Regions from separate parts of the Homo sapiens genome. Here region 1 is linked to region 2. Evidence: fine-mapped expression QTL. A gene starts in region 2. The other region holds a variant in brackets. All regions are shown on one strand. Distances are from middle to middle.

Evidence for each region.
Region 1: its variant is fine-mapped to the expression of CXCR1 in whole blood (INTERVAL, PIP above 0.99).

What each region holds. Positions count from the first base shown.
Region 1 is chr2:218,121,845-218,129,844 of GRCh38, reverse strand. It overlaps CXCR2 (C-X-C motif chemokine receptor 2), which reads right to left and starts at 3,817. Exons shown (of 3, transcript NM_001557.4): 1 at 3,492-3,817; 2 at 480-531. The variant A/CAAAA (reference allele first, on the strand shown) is at 3,021.
Region 2 is chr2:218,161,817-218,170,340 of GRCh38, reverse strand. CXCR1 (C-X-C motif chemokine receptor 1) reads left to right here and starts at 3,379. Exons shown (of 2, transcript NM_000634.3): 1 at 3,379-3,433; 2 at 5,097-7,500. The coding sequence starts at 5,130. The coding sequence ends at 6,182.

The sequences.
Region 1 (8,000 bases), 40 kb after region 2:
AAAATGCTATAGAACGAGAGACATTTACAAGATCTCAAACATCTAAGGCAATCTTTTTAACAACAAAAGAGTCATTTTAGTACAGTTCCAGTATTCTTTCTCTCTATAAATATAATCCACAAATATTGCATTTAGTGTCGGGAAGTGGGAAGCGAACAGTGTTCGGCCCATCCTCAGACCCAGTCCTAGCCCAGGCCAGGAGGGCTGGCTGAGTCTTGGAAGGCTGCCAGGCCAAGGGAAAAGCATGGGCAGCAAGTGGCCCTGAGTGGTTGGAGAGGGTTGTGAGGGAGGAGGAACAGAAGTTCTTCCTTTGGGGATGGAGAGCCCCAAAGGGAGAAAATGAAGAGGCCAAGGGGTGAGGGTGAGGGGCCCACCAAGGGTGGGGAGAGATGCTTAGGATAAATGTAGGCTGGGTATCAAGGGAAACAGAGAACAGAGACATTCTAGCTGGTGGGAAGGGTGGGTGTTCCAAGACTTACTGGGTCGCTGGGCTTTTCACCTGTAGGACACCTCCAGAAGAGCAGCTGTGACCTATGAAAGGGAGGTGGTGGTGAGAACACAGTGGAGGAAGTGAGTGGTAGATTAGATTGCTCAATGCAATTCAGGGGTGGAGCTCCTGAGGGTGCGGGTGATTTTGATAACTTTGAATAATTAGTTCCCAGATCAGCTCTCGGATGCATAGTCATTTCATAGACTCGTAGAGTTTATATTGGGAAGGGACCTGAGGGGTTTTCTACCTAGTCTTTCCATTTTACAGATGGGGAAACTGAAGCCCAAAGGAAATGGCTTGCCCAGGATTGCATGGATTTCTTTCATCTTTGCTGTATCTCAGAGCCGCTGGCTCCTTCAGCTGCCTTGTCTGAGTCTCCTGGCATTCCAGCTGCCTCAGGCTTCCCCATCATACCATTGGCAGTACTATAGCCTTCAATGTCTTTCACATGTCAAAGGGAGCAGTGCATTAAAATGACAGAGATGGACTAAAGCTTCTGGTGAGTCTGGTGGCGTTCCTCCCTGGACCTGATGCCTCTACTTCTTGGCCCCACTCCTGCCTCTTGTCTTTCCCCTCACTCCCCAACCATCTGCTCTGACCACAAGTCCATCTCTGGGTATTGATATTCTTTCTTGTTTCGCACACTTGGCATTGGGTCTGAGGACACCAACTCTGCAGCAGCTTACCACCCTTGGAGCCAAGACCCTCTAATTTGGAAAGAAAGCCTTTTGGTAAAAGGGAAGATTCCACCAAAGTCCAAATGCATTTTTAAAAACAATGTTAAGTGACCCTAAGAATGTATTTTATCAATTTGCTATTGATTACAAATGAATGAATTAATCCAGGCAGAGCCATGAACACTAATTCTGCTGTCTCACAAGTGCCCACCCCAGTGAACAACACCTCAATCCCCTCCATTATTCCTTACCCTATCTCTTGCTCCATGCATCCCAGGGCCCAGAGGGGACTCAATCCCTGTGGCAGACGCACTTAAATTGCCTGCCTACCCCAAAGAAAGAATCTTTGAGTCCAACTGTTCAGCAAATGTTTCTTAGTCTTTGTCACCTCTCTTTCCCAAGCTGGGGAAGAATGCAATGCCACCTGGCCAGTTGATGCTAAAACCAGATAGAGGCTTATTACATATGGAGAGAGGCAGATGACACCAGGGCTAGCTGAGCAATTCTGGGCAAGTGACTTTTCCTTTCTGAGTCTCAGTTTACTCATCTGTAAAATGGGGCCAATACAGAATCCAACTCATGGGGTTGTGGTGAGGATGAAATGAGGGATTGCTTGTAAATCACGTAAAACATACATAAAGTACAATGTTAACCTTTATTGTTGTGATCATTATTACTGGAATAGTTTATTCACTGATAACATGCTGCCTCTCTCACTACATCCCCAGTCAAGGGAAAGCAGTCGGCAGTGGGTCTGCTTTCAAGGCTGACTTTGATGACATCTAATTTACTTTGACCTGGATATTAATTGTCATATTAGCTGTAATGTTGAGTGTCTACCAGGTTCTAGCTTCTGGGCAAAGTGCTTTCCAGAATTTGTATCAATTAATCCTCAGGATAACCTCACGAAGCAGGCACTTTCTGGAAGAGGAAATGAAGACTCTGAGAGGTTAAGCAACATACCTAGAGTGACACAGCTGAACTAGGTTTTCAGTTTAAAAAACTTCTAAAAATCTGCTCTCAAATCCTATCTCCTGTTCACTGTAATAAGGAGCAGGATCCCAGCCTAAAGTTTCTGAGCTCCATTAGGTACCTCCCTGTGTCCCAGAAAGTCAGATACAAAGGATGTAGAGAGGGGAGCCCAGATTTGACATTTCCCAGTCAGCCTCCTTCTTCATGCTCCTTAGGTCAATTTCATTTCCATGGAGATCACTGCGGTTATATGCAGGGTGGAGTGAATTAAAAAACTGGCTTCTGGTGCGGTGGCTCATGCCTGTAATCCCAGCACTTTGGGAGGCTGAGGTGAGTGGATCACTCGAGGCCAGGAGTTACAGAACAGCCTGGCCAACATGGTGAAACCCCGCCTCTATTAAAAATGCAAAAATTAGCCAGGCGTGGCAGCGCACGCCTGTAATCCCAGCTACTCCAGAGGCTGAGGCATAAGAATTGCTTGAACTCGGGAGGCAGAAGTTGCAGTGAGCCGAGATTGTGCCATTGCATTCCAGCCTGGGCGACAGAGCAAAACCCTGTCTCAAACAAAAACAAAACAAAAACCTGGCTTCTAATCCTGCTTGGAGAAGTCATTCTTTCTGGGCCTTGTTGTGTGCCTTTGGAAAACGGGAGCTTCTTCTAATTCTATTCTGTTCAGCATGCTAGCTACTAGCCATGTGTAGCTATTTAAATTAAAATTAATTAAAATAAAGGCCAGGCAAGGTGGCCCATGCCTGTAATCCCAGCACTTTGGGAGGCCGAGGTGGGCGGATCGCTTGAGCCCAGGAGTTTGAGATCAGCCTGGGCAACATGACGAAACCCTGTCTTTACAAAAACAAAAACAAAACAAACAAACAAACAAA[A/CAAAA]CCCAAAAAATTAGCTGAGTGTAGCGGCACATGCCTGTAGCTGCAGCTACTTGGGAGGCTGAGGTGGGAGAATCACCTAGACCTGTAGGTTGAGGTTGCAATGAGCCAAGATCATGCCACAGCACTCCAGCCTGGGCATTGGAGTGAGAGCCTGTCTCAAAAAAGAAAAAATAAAATAAAATAAAATGAAATAAAAATTGAGATCCGCAGTCACACTAGTCACATTTCAAGTGCTCCGTGGCCACGTGTGACTAGTGGCTACCATACTGGGCAGGGCAGGTCTAGGACATTTCTATTATTGCAGAAAATTCTTTTGTGCAACACTGTCTAGGTGAAGACTTAGTTGTCTTTAGCTCTAAGCTTCTACACTTCATCACCCCAGTTCTCAGGGGCCTCAGAGGAGGCTGAAGTTTCCAGATCTCTTCCATTAGAAATATGTTGCCAGCATCTCAGACTGAACAAGTCACCTACCTGCTGTTATTGGAGTGGCCACCGATGTCTTCACTGTGCCTCAAGGTTGGGTGGTAGTCAGAGCTGTTAGACAGGAAAAAAAAGATGAAACAACCTTGACGATGAAACTTCTGACCTGGGTTGCAAGGGGGAAATCCAGGATGCCCTCCTGGGGAGGTATTCCCACAGAGGAACAATGAGGTCTGTCCTGGGACTTTGGCCCAGGACAGGTGCCACTTAGTGATTCTGGGATGAGTGCTGGGGATTTTCACATCTTCCTGTCTGATGGCTTCTGGAGGAGCCTACCAGTCTGAAGGTGGAGATTTGTCTATCCACCTTCTGTCTCTGAATGTTTTGAACCTGCACTTCCTTTTTTAACAAGGAAGATGCAGGCATCCCAGCCCCCGCCAACGGACTTGTCTGAACTCGCACGCAGTTTCTTCCTTCTTTCCGGGGTCAGAGTGAGAAGCGTCCCTCCTTCTGTTTCTGTTGAATCCCCGCACCTGACTGTGGGACCCACTGCCTCTCTGGTCCTTGAGGATCCTGCTTTCTCTCCCCTCTGTCCTGGCTCTTTCCCTTCTACCACATCTTACTTATGGCTTTATCATGCTCCCTCTGTCCTAGCACCCTTCAGCCACCACAGCTGCTCTCTCCACTTCCTCACCTCCCCTCTGCTGCTCAACAAAGACACTGCAACTGGCTTCCTTCCTACTGCTCCACTGAAATAACTTTCGCCAAGGTTCCCAATGACCTCTGGGTTACTAAACCCAGCAAATCCATTAAAAAAAAAAACAAAAACAAATTGCTTTCTTTCCCCCCAAGACAACAGATTGGAGGCAGCATTAGCATGCCTCTCCCATCTGGAAGGACAGAATAGCGTGTAGAGATTCACACTATAATTTTTTTTTCTCCAGGAACGAATGCAGGAACTGAACAGGAAAGCTGAAAGAATCCACAGAACTTTTGAAAGAAGTGGCAGGCTGCAGCCTACTCTGTGAGACAGGCAAAAACTCACCTCTAGGCAGAATAGCACTGTACCCAGGAAGGAGAAAACGGCTGCATATTCTCAGCTATCACCACTGCTTACAACACCCTGGCTAACCAGAAGTCCTGCGTCTGTCCACGTGATAAGTTCACTATAATTATAACCAGCATTTGAGAAAGTCAATACTCTAAGTCTATCTACAACCAAGGAATCTTGCAGAGTTTGCATCACTCCCCTCCCACTTCTGTCAGAGATGGTGCTGGTATTCACTGCTGGGAGTCTTGAAGACAGGTAACACCACTGGATCCCTTGCAGACATTCCCTAGCACCAGCCCAGAGTCTGGTAGGCCCACTGGGTGGCTAGACCCAGAAGAGCACTGTAGTCTGGCTTCCAGGAAGTCCCATTCCTAGAGGAAGGGGAAGAACATCACATCAAGGGAATACCCTGTGGAACAAAAGAATCTGAATGGCAGGGCTTGAGTCCCAGATCTTTTCACTGGTGGGAAGTTTCCTATTGCAGAGACAATTGCTGTGCTGGGCAGAGTGGGGGAAAGTTTGCACCTCTACCCAATAGGCAGGCAGCCTCTGGTATTGTGAAGGGTCTTAGAGAAGGGATCCTTGTTCCCCCTGGTACGCCACTGCAGACAGAGCTGGGGCTTCTCCCAAAGGAACGCAGCATTGATGCACCTATAGACAGCCTTCCTGGAACAAATCAGGGTGATTGCATCCCCACGGGAGGAGCACTCCCCAGATTCAGGTTTGCATGACAGGCAGTCACAATTCCTCTCTACTTGGAACATCAACATTTCTACAGATGAAAATAACTGCCTGTCTGATCTGAATAGCTGGAACACTGGGAAAGGAGTGAAGCTGGGAGGTGGATAGCTTTCCAGCTGGCCTAGTGGGGGACCTGAGGTAGCTCCTACCCTTCACCCTGACAAAACCTCAGCACATCTAATTGAGAGCTCTCCCAGGCACTCTCATCAAGGCTGGGATCTCTGCCCACCTGCTTTAGCTACAACCGGTGCCTACCCACCTACTTTAGCTACATCTGGTGCCTACCCAGGGATACTTCCCCTACTGGTCCAAAGCCTGAATCAACTCAGTAAGTAAAATACTGGGGAAAAATTAAATAAATAAATAAAGAGTACCCCACGAGAGAATGAGGTAAGCTTAAAGAGATTCCTGCCATTCCAACCCTGTAGGAGACAGTAAACCTTCCCACACACCAAGTACGTAACTGCTACAACCAGGATCTGGGAAAGCCAGCACACAAGGACTGTCTCTAACTAACGAACTCATACAGAGTCTTCACTCCTAAAATCCAAAAGTCTTCACTCCTAAAAACCAAGGATCAAATTAGGCTAAAATAAACTATAAATATTAAAGTCAGATCCTTAAGAGGGAAGAAAAAGAAATAAAAAAAAAACATAGTTGCTGGGCGTGGTGGCTCACGCCTGTAATCCCAGCATTTTGGGAAGCTGAGGCTGGCAGATCACCTAAGGTCAGGAGTTCAAGACCAGATTGACCAACATGGAGAAATCCTGTCTCTACTAAAAATACAAAATTAGCCGGGTGTGCTGGTACATGCCTGTAATCCCAGCTACTCGGGAGGCTGAGACAGGAGAATCACTCGAATCGGGGAGGTGGAGGTCACAGTGAGCCGAGATCAGACATTGCACTCCAGCCTGGGTAACAAGAGCGAAACTCCATCTCAAAAAAAAAAAAAAAGTCAAATCAAAAATAAATTCAAGAATAACTTGAAGAAATAGTCTACCCAAATGAGAAGGAACCAGAAAAGTAATTCTGGCAATATGACAAAACAGGGTTCTGTAACACCCCCAAAAGATCACACTAACTTTCCAGCAATAAATCCAAACCAAGATGAAATTTTTGTAATACCAGACAAAGAATTCAGAAGGTTGATTATTATTATTATTATTATTGTTATTATTATTATTAATAATATTTTGGGACAGATTTTCACTCTTGTTGCTCAGGCTAGAGTGCAATGGTGTGATCTCGGCTCACTGCAACTTCTGCCTCCCGGGCCCAAGTGATTCTCCTGCCTCAGCCTCCTGAATAGCTGGGATTACAGGCATGTGACACCATGCCCAACTAATTTTTGTATTTTTAGTAGAGATGGGGTTTCACCATGTTGACCAGGCTGGTCTCGAACTCCTGGCCTGAAATGATCTGCCTGCCTCGGCCTCCCACAATGCTGGGATTGCAGATGTGAACCACTGTGCCCGGCCCAGAAGGTTGATCATTAATTACTTAAGGAGATACCAGAGAAAAGTAAAAACCAACATAAAGAAATTTAAAAAAACCAATTCAGGATATGAATGAAAAAATTTCTGGAGGGTATATATCGTAAAGAAAAACTAATCAAAACTTCTGGAAATGAAAGCATACTTAGGGAATACAAAATGTGGTGGAAAGTTTCAACAATAGACTAGAACAATTAGAAGAAAAAATTTCAGAGCTTAAAGACAAGGCATTTGAATTAACCCAATCAGACAAAGATAAAAAAAAAAGACCAAAAGAAATGAACAAAGTCCCCAAGAAATATAAAATTATGTAAAACAGCCAAACTTGAGAATAATTGGTATTCCTGAGGGAGAAGATAAGTCTAAAAGTTTGAAAAACGTGTTTGAGGGAATAATTGAGGAAAGCTTCCCTGACCTTGCTAGAGATCTAGATACCCAAATATAAGAAGCTCAAAGAACTTCTGGGAAATTCATTACAAAAAGATTATCACCTAGCCACATAGTCATTAGGTTATCTGAAGTCAACAAGAAGGAAAGAATTTTAAGAACTGTGTGACAAAAACATCAGGTAACCTATAAAGGAAAACCTGTCAGACTAACAGCAGATTTCTCACAGAAACCTTGCAAGCCAGAAGGGATTGGGGTCCTATCTTTACCTTCCTTAAACAAAATAATTGTCAGCCAAGAATTTTGTATCCAGCAAAACTAAGCTTCATAAATGAAGGAGAGATAAAGTCTTTTTTCAGACAAACAAATGCTGAGAGAAATTGCCACTACTAAACCAGCATTATCAGAAATGCTAAAAAGAGTTTTAAATATTTAAACAAAAGCTTTATGTGCACCAAATTAGAACTTCCTTAAAGCATAAATCTCACAGGGCCTATAAAACAATAACACAATGAAAAAAACAAAGTATCTAGGTAACAACTAATATGATGAATAGAACACTAACTCACATTGAGAGGTGAAGCCAGCTGGATTTTTGGGTCGGGTGGGGACTTGGAGAACTTTTCTGTCTAACTAAAGGATTGTAAACACAGCAATCAGTGCTCTGTGTCTAGCTAAAGGTTTGTAAATGCACCAATCAGCACTCTGTAAAAATGGACCAACCAGCACTCTGTAAAATGGACCAATCAGCAGGACATGGGCAGGGCCAAATAAGGAAATAAAAACTGGCCACCTGAGCCAGCAGCGGCAACCTGCTCGGGTCCCTTTCCATGCTGTGGAAGCTTTGTTTTCTCACTCTTCACAATAAATCTTGCTGCTGCTCACTCT
Region 2 (8,524 bases):
AATGCCCCTGTATCTTTACCACTGCAGCCTTGACCCAGTGTCTCACTGACACTACTCCCTGCTCCTCTCATCCTAGACCACATTTGGTTTCCAGAACTCTCACAGTTGGGCATGTTTTGGTTGCTGGTAACAGAAAAGTCAACTTAAACTGGTCTTAACAATAAAGACAATTTATTGGCTCATGGAACCGAAGAAAGTACAGAGAGAAGATGGCCTCTGGGCATGGTTTGTTCAGGACTCTTGGTCTGTTTCTCTGATTCTCTCAACTCTGCCTTCTTCTGTGTGTTGGTTTTTTCCTTGGACTGTTTTTGCCATTTATGGTAGCAAAATGGCTGCTGACTGCAACAAGACTATATACTTGCTTTTCCACATTCATTGAGCAAACATCTGAACTTTGCTCTGACTGGATCATCTTGGGTCACAGACTCACTCCCTGAGCCTGTTGCTGTGGTTACGAGGACGTCACTGGGGAGAGAGGAGAAACCTCCCTCTACCCCTTTCCTCTACTTTGATCCCAGATCCAAGTGGATTCTTCTGGAGGAATGAGAAGAGATGCTGAAGCTGGCATAAGGCTGATGCAGGGACAAAATAGATGTTCTTACAGCCACATTGTGCTGTTCACATGGTCTGTGCAGAAGTCATCATGTTTAAAACAGAGTGGTAAGAAGATGTCACCCAAAGAGATACTACATTTTGCCAGTTGACTGGCATTCGGGCTGCACCTGTCACAGCTTTCTTTGTGGCATTAGGAGCTCTACATGGAATGGAAAAATGCTTCTCAGCAGGAACATTCTAGGCCATTTTAAGAGGGCACAGTTATAAGTGGGAAGTGAGGTATAGAAGATAGGTTGGGTGGGCTGACTTGCTGGAACATTTTGAAGTGGGTAAAATTTTATTCTAAACTCATCTATATGTGCTTTCTCCCTCCTTCAGTGAAATGCTCGTCCTACTGCGAAGTGAAAGGTTCTTTCCACCCTTGTCCTCCAGATGCAACTTCTCCTGGAGACCCCAGCATTGCTGTTGCCCTCACCACACTCATGCAGCAGGGCTGCTCCCCTTCACTCCTCGGGCTCCAGGAGACCAGCCTCTTCCCTAACCCCTCAGTGATTCCTTGAAATAGACTGGAATAGTGAACCGACTTACTGAGGGTTTAGGAAAAGCAGAAGGGAACTATACACCAAGAAGAACTTAACATACGGTGTTAAATATACCTGCTCTTGGCCCTGGTCTTTCTCAAGGGGGTGTCTCACAGGGGATTCCCTGTCTAGCAACTGCTGCCCCCTTGTGGCAAAAACTATCCTTCTCCCGGCCTCAGGGTCTTTCTTGAGTATAGGCAGGTGTTTTGCAGTCTAGGCCCCCGTCTTTTTTCTCCTGTGTCCCCAGTGACTATTTTCTGCCCTTGGGGCTGATTTTCCCTAGATGATTAATAGAGGGAGTCTCCCACCTCCTGGGACTACCCCATCTTTGACTCCTTTCTAGTCTAGGCGTTAGAGCACAATAGTCCAACATCAGTAAAAGCAAAGCATGAGTGGCTATTGTCCCCTTACACTTCCTGTTACCATCTATGAATGATAAAAGAGCCCAGGAGGAAAGCACAACTTAGCTTAAAAAATAGGCTTGCCGGCTGGGCATGGTGGCTTATGCCTGTAATCCCAGTGCTTTGGGAGGCAAAGGCAGGAGGATCACTAGAGGCTAGGAGTTCAAGATAAGCCTGGGCAGTATATCAGGACCCTTTCTCTACAAATAAATAAATAACTAAATAAAAAATAAAAATAAAAATATAATATAAAAAAAGAAAGCCAGATGTAGTGGCTCTTGCCTGTAGTCCCAGCTATTCAGGAGGTTGAGGTGGGAGGATTGCTTGAGCCCAGGCATTTGAGGTTACACTGAGCTATGATCACACCACTGCATTCTAGCCTTGGCAACACAGTGAGAGCCTGTCTCTTAAAAAAAGAAAAAAATTCTTTCCAGTGCAGAACTGTAGGAATCCATGGCATGGTAAATTTGGCATTTGTGGTAGGGCAGGATTTATACTTGCACAGACTGGCATTAGCTCCAAACATTAGAGGAAGGTTGGAAAGAAGCAATGCCAGGCAGACCAACTGGGCTGTGTGGAAGTGAAGCTATCAGGCATACCAGTGACTTTAGTGTGTAGCCAAAAGCAATAGACACTGAATCGTGGTGGTGACTTATGGTCCATGAATCACAGGAGAAATGTCTCCCTTCATTTATTCCACAACCATTGATTGAGCACCTACTATATTCCCTGAAAGAGAACATAAACATGAATTGAAGAAGGTTCTTGCTGTCTCATGGCTCCCAAGCTAGAAGAGGGCTGACTTGTAAATGCCTCACAGCAGGGTTCATGTTATATGGAGAAGTGACGAAGGTGCCAGAAGACTCAAGCTAGGGGACAGCCATTAGCTGCTGGAGGCAGCTAAGGTGGGTTCCCAGAGAAGCCATTCTCCGTTACTGAGATGGGGGCTGCAGTGACCTTGACCACAGCTCTTCCATTCATGGACTGCCCCAGCTCTGTGGTCTCTCTGCTAACCAGCCAGACTCTGGGAGTGGCCTATGCCGTCAGCCTCAGGGCCATTTAAACCAACTGGTCATTGGCAGTGATTGTGCGAAAGAGTGGCTGGCGGCAAAGGAGGGTTTGTGTTCCATTCAAATACCCTCAAAAAGCCTGAAAAATAAGTAGAGATTGAGGCCAGGCCTTGGAGTTGTGGAAGGTGGAGAACACTGGGAAGCCAACCTCCAAAGAAGACCAGGTTGGAGGCAAAGGAGGAAGGGGAGCTCTCGTTGGCAAACCAACAGGGAAGCCAAGGATATCCCAGTAACTGCTCTCACATCCTTGATGAGAATGCCTTGAATCCGAGCTAGGCCACCTCAAAGAAGCCTGCAAAATAAGTAGAGATTGAGTGCCTGCTGTTCAAACACAACTCAAGCGCAGTCCTCCTCCTCTTTCCCACTGGATTGCCCCCAAGTCCCTCCTATGGGGGACTCCTTCTGAAGTCTCTGCTGTAAGTCAAATCCTTCGCCCTTTATACTTGGTCAGGAAGTTGCAAGCTTCCACAGGTGATATACTAGGGAATTTAGGAATAAACAAATGGAAATAAATTCAAGAAAAGGAAAATAATAAAAATGATCATCCATAGAGTGGAGAATTCAGATAATGGACCCTCAACCCCAGCTTCACACCTGGGACCCCCACTTGGTCATATGGACCCTGGCAGTCTCTAATCACAAGTCTGTGATCCCTTGACTTAAACTGTTCTTCCCCAAATGTAGACATGGGTGGGGCTCAGAAGGGAGGTGTCATCTGATGTGGTTTCCTTATTTCCGTTTATTCATCAAGTGCCCTCTAGCTGTTAAGTCACTCTGATCTCTGACTGCAGCTCCTACTGTTGGACACACCTGGCCGGTGCTTCAGGTAGGAAGCCACCTCTGTTTGCTAGGACTTTCTGTGGGGTAGGGCTGCTTGGCTTGACTTTATTTTGGAAAATGTATTCATTTCTGTGGGAGCTGAGGATTTCTGCTGCCCGCTTCCTCTCTTGTGACCACCACTCATACATGGAGTTAGCAGGTGAAGAGGACAGCCTCCTCATCCCCTCTTTTTATACCTTGCCCTTTTGTGGGAAGAGGCTGACCATTCCCCAATTTGATGTTTATTGCTTCACCTTAAGACTTTGTCTTCAGTGAAAATGCAAATACTGGTAGGGAGGGAACACACTAAAATGTGTGGATCTGAGTGGACTCATCATACACCCTCAGGCCTGGCAGCAAATGAGAGGTGGATGATTCTGTCTTCCTCGATTTGCAGATGAGAAGACTGAAATCTATAGGGGTACGAGACCCCACTCAAGGTCATGAGACTTATTTATTTATTTATTTATTTATTTTGAGATGGAGTCTCACTCTGTCGCCTAGGCTGTAGTACTGTGGCACGATCTCGGCTCACTGCAACCTCCATTTCCCGGGTTCAAGTGATTCTCCTGCCTCAGCCTCCTGAGTAGTTGGGATTACAGGTGCACGCCACCACACCCAGCTAATTTTTTTGTATTTTTAGTAGAGACGGGGTTTCATCATTTTGGTCAGGCTGGTCTCGAACTCCTGACTTCATGATCTGCCTGCCTTGGCCTCCCAAAGGGCTGGGATTACACACGAAACTTATTAATGGTAGAATCAGGATGGAATGAAGACTGGATGCTAGGTGTCTTTACAACCAACCTCGGTGACTTTCCAAAGGCTTTCAGACTTCTCTGGAGAGTCCTGGAGCTTTGAGGGGCTCTTTAGGGGCCATCTGGGTTCGGAGATTAGCACACTCTGCCCCACAGTGGCTCAGCTTTTATCTGCTTCACATACTGGGCTTCTGGGAAGATCTTATTTCAGTAAACTATTTCACAATAGGAAATATATTTGAAAACTCTTGAATGATTCTGTGGATTTTTTCAGGGGTGGAGGGTTTCAGGGACCAAGATGGAGACTTTATCTTCTCAAATACTTAAAACTCCTTTAGACAGAGGAACAAAATATGTGCTCCTCATTTAAAGAAGGCTTAAAATATACAGTTTAATGCAATGTGTTGTTATCACTTCCTTCCCCCAGTAGATTTTAAGGAGGGTAAACAAGAATCAGGGAGAACATAGGAATAGAAATAGTAGAAGGGGACACCTGGGAACAGGTTTGCCTTCTTGCATTTTGCTTAATGCTGGCCCTTCCCTGAATGTCTAAGACCAACCTGGTCCCCACATCCAAATGCACAGACACAGCTGAGGATGGAGAAGGCTAAAGAGGGACAGAGGTAGAGACATAGGCTGAGAGGAGGCAGTTGTAGGTTGAGCTAGGGCTAAGGTGTTTTCCCCATATTCCATCTTACCCCACACTCAGGCCAGGCCTTAGAGTTGTGGAAGGTGGAGAACACTGGGAAGCCAACCTCCGAAGAAGACCAGGTTGGAGTCAAAGGAGGAAGGAGAGCTCTCATTGCCAAACCAACAGGGAAGCCAAGGATATCCCAGTAACTGCTCTCACATCATTGATGAGAATGCCTTGAATCCGAGCTACTAAATCACATTTCCTTCCTTCTAACCTTCCAGTTAGATCAAACCATTGCTGAAACTGAAGAGGACATGTCAAATATTACAGATCCACAGATGTGGGATTTTGATGATCTAAATTTCACTGGCATGCCACCTGCAGATGAAGATTACAGCCCCTGTATGCTAGAAACTGAGACACTCAACAAGTATGTTGTGATCATCGCCTATGCCCTAGTGTTCCTGCTGAGCCTGCTGGGAAACTCCCTGGTGATGCTGGTCATCTTATACAGCAGGGTCGGCCGCTCCGTCACTGATGTCTACCTGCTGAACCTGGCCTTGGCCGACCTACTCTTTGCCCTGACCTTGCCCATCTGGGCCGCCTCCAAGGTGAATGGCTGGATTTTTGGCACATTCCTGTGCAAGGTGGTCTCACTCCTGAAGGAAGTCAACTTCTACAGTGGCATCCTGCTGTTGGCCTGCATCAGTGTGGACCGTTACCTGGCCATTGTCCATGCCACACGCACACTGACCCAGAAGCGTCACTTGGTCAAGTTTGTTTGTCTTGGCTGCTGGGGACTGTCTATGAATCTGTCCCTGCCCTTCTTCCTTTTCCGCCAGGCTTACCATCCAAACAATTCCAGTCCAGTTTGCTATGAGGTCCTGGGAAATGACACAGCAAAATGGCGGATGGTGTTGCGGATCCTGCCTCACACCTTTGGCTTCATCGTGCCGCTGTTTGTCATGCTGTTCTGCTATGGATTCACCCTGCGTACACTGTTTAAGGCCCACATGGGGCAGAAGCACCGAGCCATGAGGGTCATCTTTGCTGTCGTCCTCATCTTCCTGCTTTGCTGGCTGCCCTACAACCTGGTCCTGCTGGCAGACACCCTCATGAGGACCCAGGTGATCCAGGAGAGCTGTGAGCGCCGCAACAACATCGGCCGGGCCCTGGATGCCACTGAGATTCTGGGATTTCTCCATAGCTGCCTCAACCCCATCATCTACGCCTTCATCGGCCAAAATTTTCGCCATGGATTCCTCAAGATCCTGGCTATGCATGGCCTGGTCAGCAAGGAGTTCTTGGCACGTCATCGTGTTACCTCCTACACTTCTTCGTCTGTCAATGTCTCTTCCAACCTCTGAAAACCATCGATGAAGGAATATCTCTTCTCAGAAGGAAAGAATAACCAACACCCTGAGGTTGTGTGTGGAAGGTGATCTGGCTCTGGACAGGCACTATCTGGGTTTTGGGGGGACGCTATAGGATGTGGGGAAGTTAGGAACTGGTGTCTTCAGGGGCCACACCAACCTTCTGAGGAGCTGTTGAGGTACCTCCAAGGACCGGCCTTTGCACCTCCATGGAAACGAAGCACCATCATTCCCGTTGAACGTCACATCTTTAACCCACTAACTGGCTAATTAGCATGGCCACATCTGAGCCCCGAATCTGACATTAGATGAGAGAACAGGGCTGAAGCTGTGTCCTCATGAGGGCTGGATGCTCTCGTTGACCCTCACAGGAGCATCTCCTCAACTCTGAGTGTTAAGCGTTGAGCCACCAAGCTGGTGGCTCTGTGTGCTCTGATCCGAGCTCAGGGGGGTGGTTTTCCCATCTCAGGTGTGTTGCAGTGTCTGCTGGAGACATTGAGGCAGGCACTGCCAAAACATCAACCTGCCAGCTGGCCTTGTGAGGAGCTGGAAACACATGTTCCCCTTGGGGGTGGTGGATGAACAAAGAGAAAGAGGGTTTGGAAGCCAGATCTATGCCACAAGAACCCCCTTTACCCCCATGACCAACATCGCAGACACATGTGCTGGCCACCTGCTGAGCCCCAAGTGGAACGAGACAAGCAGCCCTTAGCCCTTCCCCTCTGCAGCTTCCAGGCTGGCGTGCAGCATCAGCATCCCTAGAAAGCCATGTGCAGCCACCAGTCCATTGGGCAGGCAGATGTTCCTAATAAAGCTTCTGTTCCGTGCTTGTCCCTGTGGAAGTATCTTGGTTGTGACAGAGTCAAGGGTGTGTGCAGCATTGTTGGCTGTTCCTGCAGTAGAATGGGGGCAGCACCTCCTAAGAAGGCACCTCTCTGGGTTGAAGGGCAGTGTTCCCTGGGGCTTTAACTCCTGCTAGAACAGTCTCTTGAGGCACAGAAACTCCTGTTCATGCCCATACCCCTGGCCAAGGAAGATCCCTTTGTCCACAAGTAAAAGGAAATGCTCCTCCAGGGAGTCTCAGCTTCACCCTGAGGTGAGCATCATCTTCTGGGTTAGGCCTTGCCTAGGCATAGCCCTGCCTCAAGCTATGTGAGCTCACCAGTCCCTCCCCAAATGCTTTCCATGAGTTGCAGTTTTTTCCTAGTCTGTTTTCCCTCCTTGGAGACAGGGCCCTGTCGGTTTATTCACTGTATGTCCTTGGTGCCTGGAGCCTACTAAATGCTCAATAAATAATGATCACAGGAATGAATGCATGCTGAAAAGACCACTCTTTTGCACACCATCTGCTCAAAGCTCCTCTTGTCTGTCCTCTCCGCTTTCAGCCTCCGTCTGTCCACTTATTAAGTTTGCCTTTGTGGTTTAGCTTCATTAGATGTTTATCTGTGTAAAAATGTCCCAAGTGAGGACTTAAGATGTCAGGGCTCTTCTGATGGCAAATGATAGAAAGAGAAGTCAAACTAGCTTAAGCAAAACTGAGAGTGTGGGTTTAGCCTGTGTGGGGAAGGATCAGGGAAGGCTTGAGGTTGGGAATAGGGTGAGGCTCAGAGACAGGACCTAGATCAAGCTTCAGATGGGGATCAGTGATTGATGTTGAAATCAAAGCTGGGATGGGGGCAGGGATGGGGTGGCAGCTTGGGATGAGGTCAGAGAAGGATGAATGCCAGGAATCGGTAGAGATCTACAAGGAGGGAGAGTGAGAGTCAGGGTCACAGTGAGGTGTTGGGAACAGGGAGATTCAACATGGAGCTGGGACCAGATATGGAGAGTGAGACTTTGGAATGGGATAAGTGTGGGGGAGTGGTGAGGCTCAGGGAGGGGGTGTCAGGCCTGGAATGAATATCAGGGAAGGCTTAGTAGCTATAAGGCTGGAGCAGAAGACGTGCCTGGTAGGGTCACCATCCTATCTGGAGCATCATCTAAGATCCTCTTCCGGGGCCAAAAGACAGAGGCTCCTCAGTCTGTCCTGCTTAAGACTCTCCAGGCAGGTGAGTGAGGAGGGAGTTAGGCACTCGAGCCCTAAGAGATAGACCTGATTCAGCAGAGAAGACAAGAAGGATGCAAAGGATGCACAGAGAATCTAGGGCAGAAGGCTGAGAACTGGGGCCTCCTTTTCCTCTCCTCCCTCCGCTGATCTCCCTCCACCTCTCCTACTGTTTCCTCAAAGTCCAACTTCCTCCTTCTTCACCTTATGCTCCTGCAAGGACAACTCCATCAGAGGCTTCAGTAAGTAAATAGGGATCCACACTGGGTCCAGGGGAAATGCAAATGACTCA